2 separate regions of the Homo sapiens genome follow, and region 2 is linked to region 1. Evidence: fine-mapped expression QTL. Tissue or cell type: whole blood. Region 1 holds a variant in brackets; the other region holds the start of a gene. All regions are shown on one strand. Distances are from middle to middle.

Region 1 (6,930 bases):
GGAGAAAGTCATTCGCGTGGCTCGGGACGCTCATGTAAATTTGGTTTTGGTGCTCAAGGGTTCTTTCCTCCCAGGGGCAGGTGTTTCTTTCCTGTTTGTCTTGTGTCTTGAGAGCTTGGCCTTATGACCAGTGAGAACTCTCTCCCTGGTCTCTGCCAGCCCAAGCATCACTGCCCGAGGCGCCAGCTCAGTTTCACCGTCCACGTCCACAAGGGGCTTTTCCCACCTTCACCTTTGTCGCTGGGTCAGTGCTGGAAAGCGCCCCTCACTCCTGCGCTGACAAGGGCCCTTCTCTACTGTCTGTGGGGTGGTTCCGGGCTGGGGGGGCTGCCTCCTTTGCACCTGATTTTGAAGGTGTCTCTTTCATCCATGGTTAAGTCATAAAAAGCTTATTGGTTTTGGTTTTGACTCACCTGAAAGTTTTTTTGGTTTAAAAGAAGAATAGGCGGGGCACGGTGGCTCATGCCTGTAATCCCAGCACTTTGGGAGGCTGAGGCAGGTGGATCACGAGGTCAGGAGATCGACACCATCCTGGCTAACACGGTGAAACCCCGTCTCTACTAAAAAATACAAAAAATTAGCTGGGTGTGGTGGTGGGGGTGGGCGCCTGTAGTCCCAGCTACGTGGGAGGCTGAGGCAGCAGACTGGTGTGAACCCGGGAGGTGGAGCTTGCAGTGAGCCGAGATCGCGCCACTGCACTCCAGCCTGGGCGACAGAGCGAGACTCCATCTCAAAAAAAAAAAAAAAAAAAAGAAAGAAAGAAAAATAATTTTGGGAGTTTCTGGAAAGGTACTAGGATTTCTCAAAAGGATTTGTCTTCTGCCTTGTGAAAGACAGATGTCAGACTAATCAGGCTTATCCGATGTGCTACATGAGATGGAAAGCGTGTGAAATAGTAAGTCACACTAAGTCTTCTGGAGGTTCTATTTACGGGTTTGGTTTTGATATGAATGTTGCAGAAACTCTATAAAATTCCTAGAAATCTGATACGTTATCCTATGATATATATCCTATCTCACATGCTATTCCTAGAAATCTGGTGCAATGTTATCAGTCATAATTTTGGTTATTACATTAAAATGCTGCATGCCACAGAAATAACCAAGTTTCCTTGCCAACCGTGTCACGAATATAATAAACTCTCATCAGATCCTGAGCCATGGCTATCTTAAGTCTTCGGTCATTCACAGTTATTATCTTACTTTGATTTTTTCTGAAAGCTTTGCAATCAGCTAGTCCCAAATTGTTTATTCTTCAAAGAGATTCCTGGGAAGGATTCTGACAGGTGCTCTGGAGCACAGGTTTCTGGTTCAGGTCATAGCCTTGGATTGGGTGCAAATTTCCAGAACTCGAAGGAGGGACCTGGCAGGTCCATGAAAGTTCTGTCCCAGGATCAACCAGAACAAGAATTAATGACATGGGAATGAATGAACTGACGAGGATGTTTACTGTTTAATGACTTTTGTCTGAAGCATTACGGTTCTTTAATATTTTGTTTTCCAGATGTAAGAAAACGTTTTTTGTTTCTGTTTTTGTTTTTGAAGACAGGGTCTTGCTCTGTCACCCAGGCTGGAGCGCAGTGGCGTGACCACAGCTCATTGCAGCCTTGAATTCCCAGGCTCAAGTGATCCTCCCGCCTCAGCCTCCTGAATAGTTGGGACTACAGGAATGCACCACCACACCTGGCTAATTTTAAATTTTTTTTTTTTTAGGAGATTCAGGGTCTTGCTATGTTGCCCAGGCTGGTCTCGAACTCCTGGGCTCTAGCAATCCTCCTGCCTCGGGACTACAGGCCTGAGCTGCTGCGCCCAGCCTGGGCACGAAAGCCGTCTGTACGAGAGTTGCTGGGGAAATTTCTCTGAAGTCTGTATCAAGTGGGGCAGCTTCAGCTTACAGGGCTTTGGGAAAAGAGCAGTTTTAATTTTCAGTGACTCCATGAGGAATGGTGGAAGAAAAAATTGGAAAGAGTGGTTTGGTGAGCTGTAGGCAAATATTGGAGGAAACTGAAGTTCAGGACCCGGTCCGGACCACAGGTGGGCGACAAAACCTCCAGACAGCAAACCGGGCTAGAGTCTAATAGTGGGGGCACGAGTTTTATTTTGAAACATAATTTTTCTCTCTACAGTCAACAAATTTCTTTTTCTTTTTTTTTTTTTGAGATAGAGTTTCGCTCTTATTGCACAGGCTGGAGTGCAATGGCTTGATCTCGGCTCACGGCAACCTCTGCCTCCCGGGTTCAAGTGATTCTCCTGCCTCAGCCTCCCGAGTAGCTGGGATTACAGGCATGCGCCACCACGCCCAGCTAATTTTTGTACTTTCAGTAGAGATGGGGTTTCTTCACGTTGGTCAGGTTGGTCTCGAACTCCCGACCTCAGGTGATCCACCCACCTCGGCCTCCCAAAATGCTGGGATTACAGGTGTGAGCCACCGCACCCAGCCAACAAATTTCCTTCTTCCTTTTTTTTTTTGAGATGGAGTCTCGCTCTGTCGCCCAGGCTGGAGTGCAATGGCGCAATATTGGCTCACTGCAACCTCTGCCTCTCGGGTTCAAGTGATTCTCCTGCCTCAGCCTCCCAAGTCTCTGGGATTACAGGTGCCTGCTACCACGCCCGACTAATTTTTGTATTTTTAGTAGAGATAGGGTTTTGCCATGTTGGCCAGGCTGGTCTCGAACTCCTGACCTCAGGTGATCCGCCCACCTCGGCTTCCCAAAGTGCTGGGATTACAGGTGTGAGCCACCGTGACCGGCTGCAAATTAACGCATTTCTATCAAAGATAATAAAAGTAGGATTGTTTTCAAATTAACACATTTCTATCAAAGATAATAAAAGATTGATTTGATTGCAGAGTAAGTTTGGCCTCA[T/G]TAAACCTGGTGTGGTTATTTATGTAAGTGGAACAAGAATAGTGATTAACCACATAGGTTCTTCCTCATTTTTGTTTTCCAACAGGGCCTCACCCTGTCACCGAGGCTGGAGTGCAGTGGTACCATCATGGTTCACTGCTGCCTTGACCTCCTGGGCTCAAGCCACCTTCCAGCCCCACCCTCCAGAGTAGCTGGGACGACAGGCATGTGACACCACACCTGGCTAATTTATTTGTATTTTAGTAGAGAGGGAGCCCCACTATGTTGCCCAGGCCAGTCCTGAACTCCTGGGCTCAAGCAAACCTCCCATCTCAGGCTCCCAAAGTGCTGGGATTATAGGTACACCTGGACACGTGGGCTCTTTTAAAATTTGCTTTACTGGAACTTTTTTTTTTTTTTTTCCTGAGACGGAGTCTTGCTCTGTCGCCCAGGCTGGAGTGCAGTGGCGCGATCTCGGCTCACTGCAAGCTCCGTCTCCCGGGTTCATGCCATTCTTCTGCCTCAGCCTCCCGCATAGCTGGGACTACAGGCACCCGCCACCATGCCCGGCTAATTTTTTTATTTTTAGTAGAGACGGGGTTTCACCGTGTTAGCCAGGATGGTCTCGATCCCCTGACCTCGTGATCTGCCCACCGTGGCCTCCCAAAGTGCTGGGATTACAGGTGTGAGCCACTGTGCCTGGCCTACTGGAACTTTTTATAAGGAATCTGAGATTGGGCTTTTAAAAGCCTCTTGAGGCTAGGAAGCCATCGCAAAGACTTGCCATCAGACTTTGCCTGCAATAAGTACAGATTTAGGGGAATTCCTCTCTTCTTGAGGTCCCTAAGGTATCTTAAGATTCTGGGACCTGCCAGGAATTGACATTCTTTACTCATCTGTAAGGGAACCACGTATGTGAGGTACCAGGCCAGCTTTTTTCCAAGGGGCTTTATTGGACCATGCAGTCAACCCTAACTCCTTTAGTCGTATCTGAAAATAGGACATTCCAGTCAAAGCCTTGGTAATATAACCAATGTTTTCAATTGTGCCCTATTACAAGAACAGATTCTCATTGAACTTATGCAAACCCACTAACAGTTTCTGAATTCTGGGATTAGGGAGGAAGAAAAAGATAAATATTTCACCGTTGAGGCCATTCTAACCTCCCTGCCTTTCTTCCCTGAAGCAGGCCATAAAACCCAGGAAGGCCACTCCCAGACCCTCTCCCTGCAGACCCTCACGTGGTGTCCCGCCCCCTAACCAGAGGAAAGGGATGTCAGAGTCAAGTCGGGCCTTGATCACACCCTTCCATCCTCCGCTCACTCCTGCTCCGCTGTGAAATAGACCATTTCTTTGGTCTTTGTTTTGAAGGGGCCCACATCACATGGAACTCGCATTAAATGTTTGTATGCTTTTTCTTTTTTTTTTTTAAGACAGAGTCTTGCTCTCTGACGCCCAGGCTGGAGTGCAGTAGCGCAATCTTGGCTCACCGCAGCCTCCGCCTCCCGGGCTCAGGGGATCCTCCCATCTCAGCCTCCCCAGTAGCTGGGACTCCAGGCATGCACCGCCACGTCTGGCTAATTTTTTTGTTTTTGATAGAAACAGGGTTTTGCCGTGTTGGTTGCCATGTTGACCAAGCTGGACTTGAAGTCCCGGCTTCTAGTGATCCACCTGCCTCAGCCTCCCAAAGTGTTGGGAATATAGGCGTGAGCCACTGCGCCCAGTTTAATCTGTCTTTTGTTCAAGGGTCTGTTGGATACAGTGAGTTCTAGATTTCTCTTAGAGGACTCAGCATGTATGTTCAGTTCTTTGTTCTCCATTTAACTCGTGCATAGTTTCAGTAAACAACCTTTTCCACCAGTTTTAATCAATAGTTCACATCTGTTCCCCTGGTCACCTGCTCCGTCCTGACTCATCCTGGTACCTGTTTTTTTTTTTTTTTTTTTTTGAGATGGAGTCTCGCTCTGTTGCCCAGGCTGGAGTGCAGTGGTGCGATGTCCGCTCACTGCAAGCTCCGCCCCCCGGGTTCCTGCCATTCTCCTGCCTCAGCCTCCCGAGTAGCTGGGACTACAGGTGCCCGCCACCACGCCTGGCTAATTTTTTTTGTATTTTTAGTAGAGACGGGGTTTCACCACGTTTGCCAAGATGGTCTCGATCTCCTGACCTCATGATCCACCCGCCTCGGCCTCCCAAAGTGCTGGGATTACAGGCGTGAGCCATCGCACCCGGCCCCTGGTCACCTGCTCTGACCTAAGTCATCTTTAGCTACCTGTTCCTGTCCTTCCTGCCAAACTACTCACCCCACCACTCTGGGTCACACCCCTGCTCTCTTTAAAATAGTCAATCAGAATTACCTTAGAGTGTGCAGTCCAACCCCACCCAACAGGGGAATGACACAGCCGTAGAGGCTACCTGTGTCAGGAATAAGAACCCCTTCCCCTCCCTTGTCCAGGTGCGCTCTCACCATTGCTCCATCCGCGAGTCGCACCCTTCTATAGAAGTAAAAATTGCCTTGCTGAGAAAATTAATGTTTGAGTGCTATTTCTTTGTGGCACCGAGGAAGCATTTTGTTTCTAACAGGTCTCAGCCATGAAGCTTGTGATGGGTGAGGAAAAGATATGACTTCTCCCCCTACAGAGAATCTGATGAGGGTGCAGCTCCCAGGAACAGGCCATGGACACCCCCAGGGTTGTGAGGTCCTCCAGTCAAGGGGCCCCCTGACCCGAGGCAGGGGACGATGCCGCGGGCAGCCTGTGGCTCGGCTGCTCCCTACTCCCAGCTGCCCCTTCCAACAAGACACCAGCTCCCGGGCAGTGCCCCTCCCCCGCTGACTCCAAAAGCCAGGACAGCTTCTTTCCAAGCAGGGTGGACCCACCCTTGGTCCTGACCCCAAGCCCTCCAGCTCAGCCAAGGGCGGAGCCCCCCCAGGCCATGTGTGGTGGGGACCTGAGCGTGGCTGGGCTCTCCCTTCAACACCAACTCCTGCTACCCTCACAGCTGTGTGTACATGGAGGAGGGTCTCTGTGGGCTTCATCTGGACACTGCAAAAGGCTGCAGGGGGCTCAACTGCCATTAGGAGCAGCCTCCCACTCCTGGGTCCATCGGAGGCTCCCCCACCCAGCCTCAGCACTGACCACCGGCTTGGATGGCTGGGTGAGGCTGCCTCCACCCTGTGGACAGGACAAAGGCTCAGCCATCAGAGGCCACAAGCCAGATGCCTTCCCACCAGCTTCCCACCAACTAGTACAGCTATTTATAGTGCAGTGGAACAGGGTACCAGGCAGGGAGCACCCACTGATCCCCACCCCTCCCCAGAGTCCCTCCCCCACCACTGAACCCCACCCTTTCCCACCCCACGGAGGCCCCTCCTCTCACCATGTCCCTGGCCACACATCAAGTCTCCAGCTATCTCACTGACTCCCACCTGCTCACTAAGCTGCCTCTCAACAGAACTGAGTCAATCCCTGTAGGCTCCTGGCAGAGGTGTGGGGACACCACCCACCTTGGTTATGAAGGAGTCTACTAAGCTCACAGCCCATGCACTCCTGTGTGTGGACCCCCATCCCTGCCAGCCTGCAGCACTCCCGGACTCCAACACTCCATGCCTATACCAGGCCAGAATGATGCAGCCACCCTCACTTTAAGCTGGGCTGCCTGTGGCAGGAAGACCCCTCCACGGTGCCTGCAGCCCCTACCCCTCAGCCTGTCTTGGGGCAACACCCCTATGGGAGGCCCTTGGGAGACACCTACCAGCAGGAACCAGGTCCCTCCAGAGTGAGGGCTTCCCAGCTCACAGCCAGAGGCTACTCCCCGCCCCGCAGGCCCTCGGGTAAGGGGCCTGAATCCCTCAGAGGACCAGCCCTCCCTGCTCCCTTTCCCCCCGCTAAAGGTGGCACGGGGGCCCACCTCAGTGGCTGCCCTGGGTCCTGCTTGTCCAGCTCCAGGACTGCCTGCTGTCCAAGGCTCTCCAGAAGCAGCAGTGAACCCCACCCTTATCAGCCCCAGCAACAGCCTCACAGCGTGAGGAGGCCCAGAAAGGCCTGGGAGCAGGGCCAGCCCCCACAAGGCAGTGAGGTCGGGAGGGATTC
Region 2 (6,609 bases), 29 kb before region 1:
GCTCCGGTGTCACCAGGCTGGCCAAGTCCAAAGTCCCTGAGGCCACCAGCCTTGACTGTCCTGCTGGTCCCACTTTTAAAGCTGCTCCCCAGGACCCCCTGGCCGCTGTGGACTGGGGTCCCTCCGCACCTGGCCCATTTGTGGCTGCGTCCACAGGGGCTCCTGTGGCCTCCCAGAGCCAGCTCGGGGGTCAGATGGTCGCGGGGGCTATGGTCACTGTGGGAAAAGAGGTTCTGGGCATCTGTGGAGGGAGGGGTGGAGCATGGAGTCTCCAGGACTGTGGCCCCGTTGGTGTGCTGGACGGGCCCTGCCTTGAAGACCATGTCTATTCTTGGACCGTCATGAAATAAGAGTAGTTCTGCAATAGCTTGAGAAGTGCCTGCAGAGAGGATGAGAAGGCGCCTCTAGGAAGGGGGACTTGGGGACCTCACCAGCCTGCAGCCAGGGAAGGCTTCTGGGAGGAAGGGGCAGCTGCGGCCCTGAAGGTGAGCGGTGGGGGGACGCAGGGGCTGGACGCCTAGCAAAAGCAGCTGATCCTGGAGGAGAGAGGGAGCTCAGGGCCGGGAAGGCCCTTGAGGAACAAAAGGTGGGGCGGGGCATGGAGGGGCACGGCTGAGCTGCTCACAGCCAGGGATCCCCGGTGGTGCTGCTGCCTCCTCGGGCGGGCGTGCTGATGAGCACTCGAGGCTGGGCAGGGGATGGTGGGAGGCATCACGGCCTAGGAGTGTCATTCCCTGAGGGAGCCCCACAAGCCAGGGAGGTGGGTAAGGAAGGCCGGAGCCCGGTCACGGTGATGGGGGTGGTGAGGAGGGGCGGGGGCTAGGACCGCAGAGGCCCCGTGGAGCAGCTTTTGTCGTCGTCGTTGGACCCGTAGGTGTCAGGGGCTGGTACTTCTTGCTCCAGGCTCAGCTGTCTTGGGAGGTCCGGCCTGTGGCTCCCCCTGGGAAAGAGCAGGAGCAGAAGGCCTGGGGCTTGGCATGTTTTGAGCCAGGAAAAACACTGGTGGCTGCTGCCTTTAAAACATAAATAGGTTTGCTTCTTTAATTCCATATGTGCATTTACACTCTTCTTTATTAGTGGATAAATATTAGAAAATCATCTCTCAGACAGAGTGGCTGAGGGCGGGCCCCTCCAGGGGCTCCGGCTTGGTGTGCAGGGTGAGGCTGTCCCTCCAGGGCTCGTACACCAGCGTGGAGGTCTCGGCCCTCTTGATGGTGAACTTATAGGATCGGTTGGGCAGCAGGTTTCGGACGTCGAAGGTGCAGGCAGCCACGGGGATGACGCCACACTGGGCGCACTCCTGCTGTGTCCGCGGGTCCAGCAGCCTGAAGCGCAACTCATACTGCTCCGATGTGGCTGGCTGGATGGTGACGAACCAGCGCAGCCGGGCCCAGTCCTGGTGAGCCGCCGACGCCTTTCGGTCAAACACGACAGGCATCTTGGTGCTCAGCATGAGCCAGATGTGCGGGATCTTGGTGGCACTGACATCAGACACCAGGCGGTGCTTGACGTGTAGCCGCCCCGGCACCATCATGGTCAGGAAGCTGTCCATGACGGCCGACACGTCCGCCAGCCGCCGCTCCACCAGCGCCCAGTCGGCCAGGAAGGGCCGTGGGTCTGGCGACCGGAGCAGGGCATCCAGCTCAGCACGGCCATGGTCGAGCTGTTCCAACAGGTCCCCGAGCAGCAGGAGCTGGATCTTGGTCTGAGCTGTGCCCACCTTCTTCATGCGCTGGAACTTCCAGGGGTCGATGAGCTGGAACAAGGCGCTAGGCAGCACCAGCGGGTTCTGGTCGCCCAGGGCCAGGTGCTTGGGCAGGACCTCGATGTAGTAGGAGCACTTACGCAGCAGCTGCATGCGGGCGTGGTGGCGCTTGAGCAGGTGCGGACTCAGGTCCGAGGTCAGGAACTCACGCAGGGCATTGCGGCGCTCGGTGTAGGTCTTCCACGCCTCTGGTTCCAGCAGCTGCTGGTCATCTGCCTCCTCCTGGTCCAGGAAGGACTGGGGATTGCCCAGCTTCATCTTGTCCAGGCCCAGGCCTGCCACATGGGTGCTCATTATCCGGGAGCTGGGGGGAGGGCTGGGTGTCAGCTGCCAGGCAGGCTGGCCTCCCCTGGGCTGTGGCATGTTCGGGGGATGGATTCAGCCCACTGACCCCATGCTGGACCTCTGTCCTTCTTCGGGGGCACAACTCGATGGGAAGAGGCTGCCTGGAGGGCTGGATGGGCAGCCTACAGATCTGGACACAGTTTATACTGAGGGGCAAAAACCTCTACTGACAACCAGTGGCCTGTGGGACAGGACAGGGAAGAACTAGGACTGCGGACTTCTGGCCAGAACCGCCTGACCTGTGGCCTTGCAAGGGCCCCAGTTCCTAACCCTGCTGCTGAAAGGGGTTGCTGGCACCCCTCGGGGCCGTGGAGAGGGGACGGCGTGGTCCTAAGCAGCACAGGATCCCCCTCGGGGACATTCGCGGGCCATCCTCCCGCTCCGGTTCTCCCTGGGGACGCTCCACGCCTCACCGCAGTTGTAGGGCACAGAGACAGGCCTCACCAAAGACGAGGCCAGCTGGCTGGTCAGCATGGGAGGAGGGCGCCCAGGCCTGGGCCCGGAGGAGCAGCCCTCCTCCCACGCTGTGGGCCCTCGCTGTGGACCCGGGATCCTGTCCCTGGTGAGCTCATGGACTCCACAAGTGACACTCCATTTCCCAGATGGAGCCTGAGGCTAAGAAGCTTGGTTCTTGTTCTCATCCAGGGCTTGAGCCCAGTGCTGAGCCGAGTCTGACCCTCTGTCCGTGGGTGCACCGGCTGAGTGCAGCTGTGGCCCCAGGCTCTGCCGCAGCTCCCTGGAGAGCAAGCCGCACCCCTGGTTGCTGCCCCGGCTCCCAGCAACCCTGGAGATCTCAGGTTGTCACAGCCACTTGGGCCTTGGACGACCCACAAATGAGAGCTAAGCAGTTGCTGAGTTCCCCAGGGCCACACAGGTACGTGGTGAAGTCATATCTGCCCGGGAAGGGTTGCCCTTTTGGGCGTGAGGCAGATATGACTTCACGAGCGCACTCCTCGGGAATCCCTCGAGAACAGGCCCCTGGGGGCAGCAGGGAGTGTGTCTGGGGTGAGGTGCCAGCTGAGAGCAGGACCCCAGGACCCCAGGCCTAAGCCCTGCTCTTGCTGGAGGCTGGGGCGGATTTCACCGCTGGAGGGAAACCGTGCCTCTGTGACGTGTGAGGGATGTTTTCTAGTCTCCAGCAGCTGCCCAGGTGGAACACCCAGAGAGGCTGGTCGTGAACCCGGAAAGGTGGTTCTGAGCCCCTCGCTGCTTCCTACACGCCCCGGTCCCAGGCCCGCTTCCCTGAGACCACCAGGTGCCCGCACTCTACCCCCTCCACCACACTCCCCTTGGCTCCCCTGGCCCGGGCCCACCTCCCCGGCCGCTCTGCCTGCCCCTTACCTTCTCGAGACCCCCAGCCCTCCTCTCCCGGCCCCCGCCGCCGCCCCAGGACCGCGCCCACTTGCCCTGCCTCTGAAGCGGAGCCGCGCGCGGACTTCCCAGAGCCCAGCCTCCCTCCGCACTCCGCGGGTTGCCCTGGGGACCAGCGGCCTTTGTGACGCTGCGGCCCGGGGGCGGGGCGGGGGTGGGGACCCGGGACCCCGAGCCGAGTAATCTTCCATCCGCTTCGCTTCCTGGAGAGCCCCAGACTTCTGGGGGCCCGCGTCCCCGACTGAGGGGCCACGGCGGGTGGCTGGTCCAAGAGCCAGGCTCCAAGGGGGGTTCCCGTCCCGGAGCCCTTCCGCGGGCGCACCACTCCCCACGCACCCCCGGCTTCGGGCGGGGCGCAGGAGCCTCGGGTGACTGGGAGGGAGTTCCTGCTCAACCCCCCAGTCCGAGCGCACTCCTCGGGAATCCCTCGGAGGAATTTGGGAGAGAGGCAGTGGCCGGTGACCAGGCGGATGGACCACCCAGCGCCTGGACAGAGGAGAGGGGCGGCTTCCCCCGCCGCGGGCTCTGCCCAGCAAGGCCCCGCCCATTACAGATGCCACCCATTACAGGCTCCTCCCACCGCAGGCTCCCCCCACCGCAGGCTCCTCAACCACAGGCTCCTCCCACCATGGGCTCCCCCCTCCCCCGCAACGGCCCCTCCCATCATAGGCTCCTCCCACCGCGGGCTCCCCCCACCACGGCCCCTCCCACCACAGGCTCCTCCCAGAGCAGGCTCCTCCCACCGCGGGCTCCCCTACTACGGCCCCTCCCACCACAGGGTCTTCCCACCACAGGCTCCTCCCAGCGCAGGCTCCTCCCACCGCGGGCTCCCCCCACCACGGCCCCTCCCATCATAGGCTCCTCCCACTACAGGCTCCTCCCACTACAGGCTCCTCCCACCATGGGCTCCTTCCACCTGGGGCTGCCCAAGCTCAGGCACCGACCTGACTCTGGATAAATGGGGTCTCCATAGCTCCAGGGAGCCCCGCAGGGGAGCTCTGAGGCCATCTGGTCCCGTCTGTATCTGTTCAGTTGGGCTCAGGGCCTCTGGGATCCCCCCGTTCCCCCACAGCACACCCCAGCTAGCTGGGGGTCTCCTGGGGTCACAATCTTAGACACCCCAAGGTGCCCCTCCTTCACCTTCAGGAAGATGCTGGAGGAAGACACCCTTTCCATCCTCCTCATCTCCACCCCCACGGAGGTCAGTGCTGGGGCCTCTTCCAGGATGGGCGTCTTTGAGCCCCTACCAGGCTGTTCTGTAACTTGAGCCTCCCCCCTCCTCCCGGTGACCCCACCCTGGAAGAGCTTTCCCTTGGTGCATGGAGGCCCCAGGGGTTAGGCCTGGCAGGAAGTGGGTGGATGTGGGTGGTTTTTTTTTTGAGATAGCGTCTTGCTCTGTCACCCATGCGGCAGTCTTCACCCCCGGGGCTCAAGTGATCCTCCCACCTGGGTCTTTCTGATCCTTCCGGATTACAGGTGTGAGCCTTGCACCCAGTCCTGTTGGGTGCTGTTTCTGCCCTGCCCTCCCTGCCTGGGCTGGAACTCAATAAATGCCAGCTATTGTTATTGTTATTTAGGGCTCCAGGGGACAAAGCCGGGGTTGTTTGGAGAAGGGGGTGCTGTCTGACGCGGAGGGTTGGGAAGCAGTAGGAGTTAGACCCCTTACCCCCGGCCCTGCAGCCCACTGACGGAGAAGCGGGGTGGGGGCAGAGCAGCCTCCCCTTCTCTTTTGGGGCCAGGCAGGTCCTGGATGTCTCCCCTCTCCTGGGCTCCACCCTACCCCCTTTCTTTCAATTTCTGATTTCTAATCTAATTTTTTAAAGTTAAACTTTTGGCCAGGCTCGGTGGCGCAGGCCCATAACCTCAGCACTTTGAGAGGCCAAGGTGAGAGGATCCCTTGAGGCCAGAAGTTTGAGACCAGCCTCGGCAACACAGGGAGACCCCTGTCTCTACAAATAATTTGAAAAATTAGCTGGGTGTGGTGGTGTGCACCTGTGGTCTCAGCTACTTGGAAAGCTGAGGCCGGAGGATCACCTGAGCCTGGGAGGATGAGGCTGCAGTGAGCCAAGATGGTGCCACTGCACTCCAGCCTGGGTGACAGAGGGAGACCCTGTGTCTCTAAAAAGAATAATAATGGCTGGGCGCAGTGGCTCACGCCTATAATCCCAGCACTTCGGGAGGCTGAGGCAAGCAGATCACCTGAGGTCAGGAGTTCAAGACCAGCCTGGCCAACATAGTAAGACCCAGTCTCTACTAACAATACAAAAATTAGCTGGACGTGATCGAGACCATGGTGAAACCCCGTCTCTACTAAAAATACAAAACACTAGCTGGGAGTGGTGGCAGGCGCCTGTAGTCCCAGCTACTCGGGAGACTGAGGCAGGAGAATGGCGTGAACCTGGAAGGTGGAGCTTGCAGTGAGCCGAGATCACGCCACTGCACTCCAGCCTGGGCGACAGAGCGAGACTCTGTCTCAAAAAAAAAAAAAAAATTAGCTGGACGTGGTGGTGGGCGCCTGTAGTCCCAGCTACTCAGGAGGCTGAGGCAGGAGAATCGCTTGAACCCAGGAGGTGGAGGTTGCAGTGAGCCGAGATTGTGCCACTGCACTCCAGCCTGGGTGCAATAAGACAGAGGCCTGTCTCGAAAATAATAATAATAATAATAAAGTTAAACTTTTACTTTTAAGATAAGTATAGATTCATCTGCAGTTGTAAGAAGTAACACAGAGGTCCCGTTACCCTCTATCCAGCATCCCCAGTGGTAGCATCTTGCAGGACTGCAGTGCAGAATCACGCCAGGACCTTGACGTCGATACAGACGCAAGGCAGTGCCACCCCCACGGGACCCTGACATGTTCTTTACAGCCACGCTGCTCCCTCCCACCTCTCCCTAGCCCTGCAACCACTCATCTCTCCGGCTCTGTCTGGTCATTTCAAGAATGTCCTATCAGTGCAGGCTTTCAGTATGCAGCCTTGGGACTGGCTTCTTGCGCTCAGCATAGTCCCCTCTGTGCAGGGTCAACAGTCACTCCTGTTCACTGCTGGGCACCAGGGGCCAGTTTGTGCTCAGTCTTGCTCAACCCTGTTTGTGGCCACCAGGGCACGGGCAGTGAACACTTTGGATCTGTT

Evidence for each region. PIP is the estimated chance that this variant, and not a neighbour inherited with it, causes the effect.
Region 2: FNDC11 starts here. The variant in region 1 is fine-mapped to the expression of FNDC11 in whole blood (INTERVAL, PIP 0.96).

The regions. Positions count from the first base shown.
Region 1 is chr20:63,522,227-63,529,156 of GRCh38, reverse strand. PTK6 (protein tyrosine kinase 6) reads left to right here. Exons shown (of 8, transcript NM_005975.4): 8 at 1-1,156. Among named protein-coding and RNA genes, the nearest start is that of PPDPF, 4.9 kb to the right of the region's middle. RefSeq lists a silencer at 1-21. The variant T/G (reference allele first, on the strand shown) is at 2,864.
Region 2 is chr20:63,551,114-63,557,722 of GRCh38, reverse strand. It overlaps FNDC11 (fibronectin type III domain containing 11), which reads right to left and starts at 3,564. Exons shown (of 2, transcript NM_001319152.2): 1 at 3,517-3,564; 2 at 1,028-2,069. The coding sequence starts at 2,059. The coding sequence ends at 1,103. RefSeq lists silencers at 3,473-3,722, 3,993-4,132, 4,153-4,302, 4,323-4,382 and enhancers at 4,073-4,367, 4,663-4,752.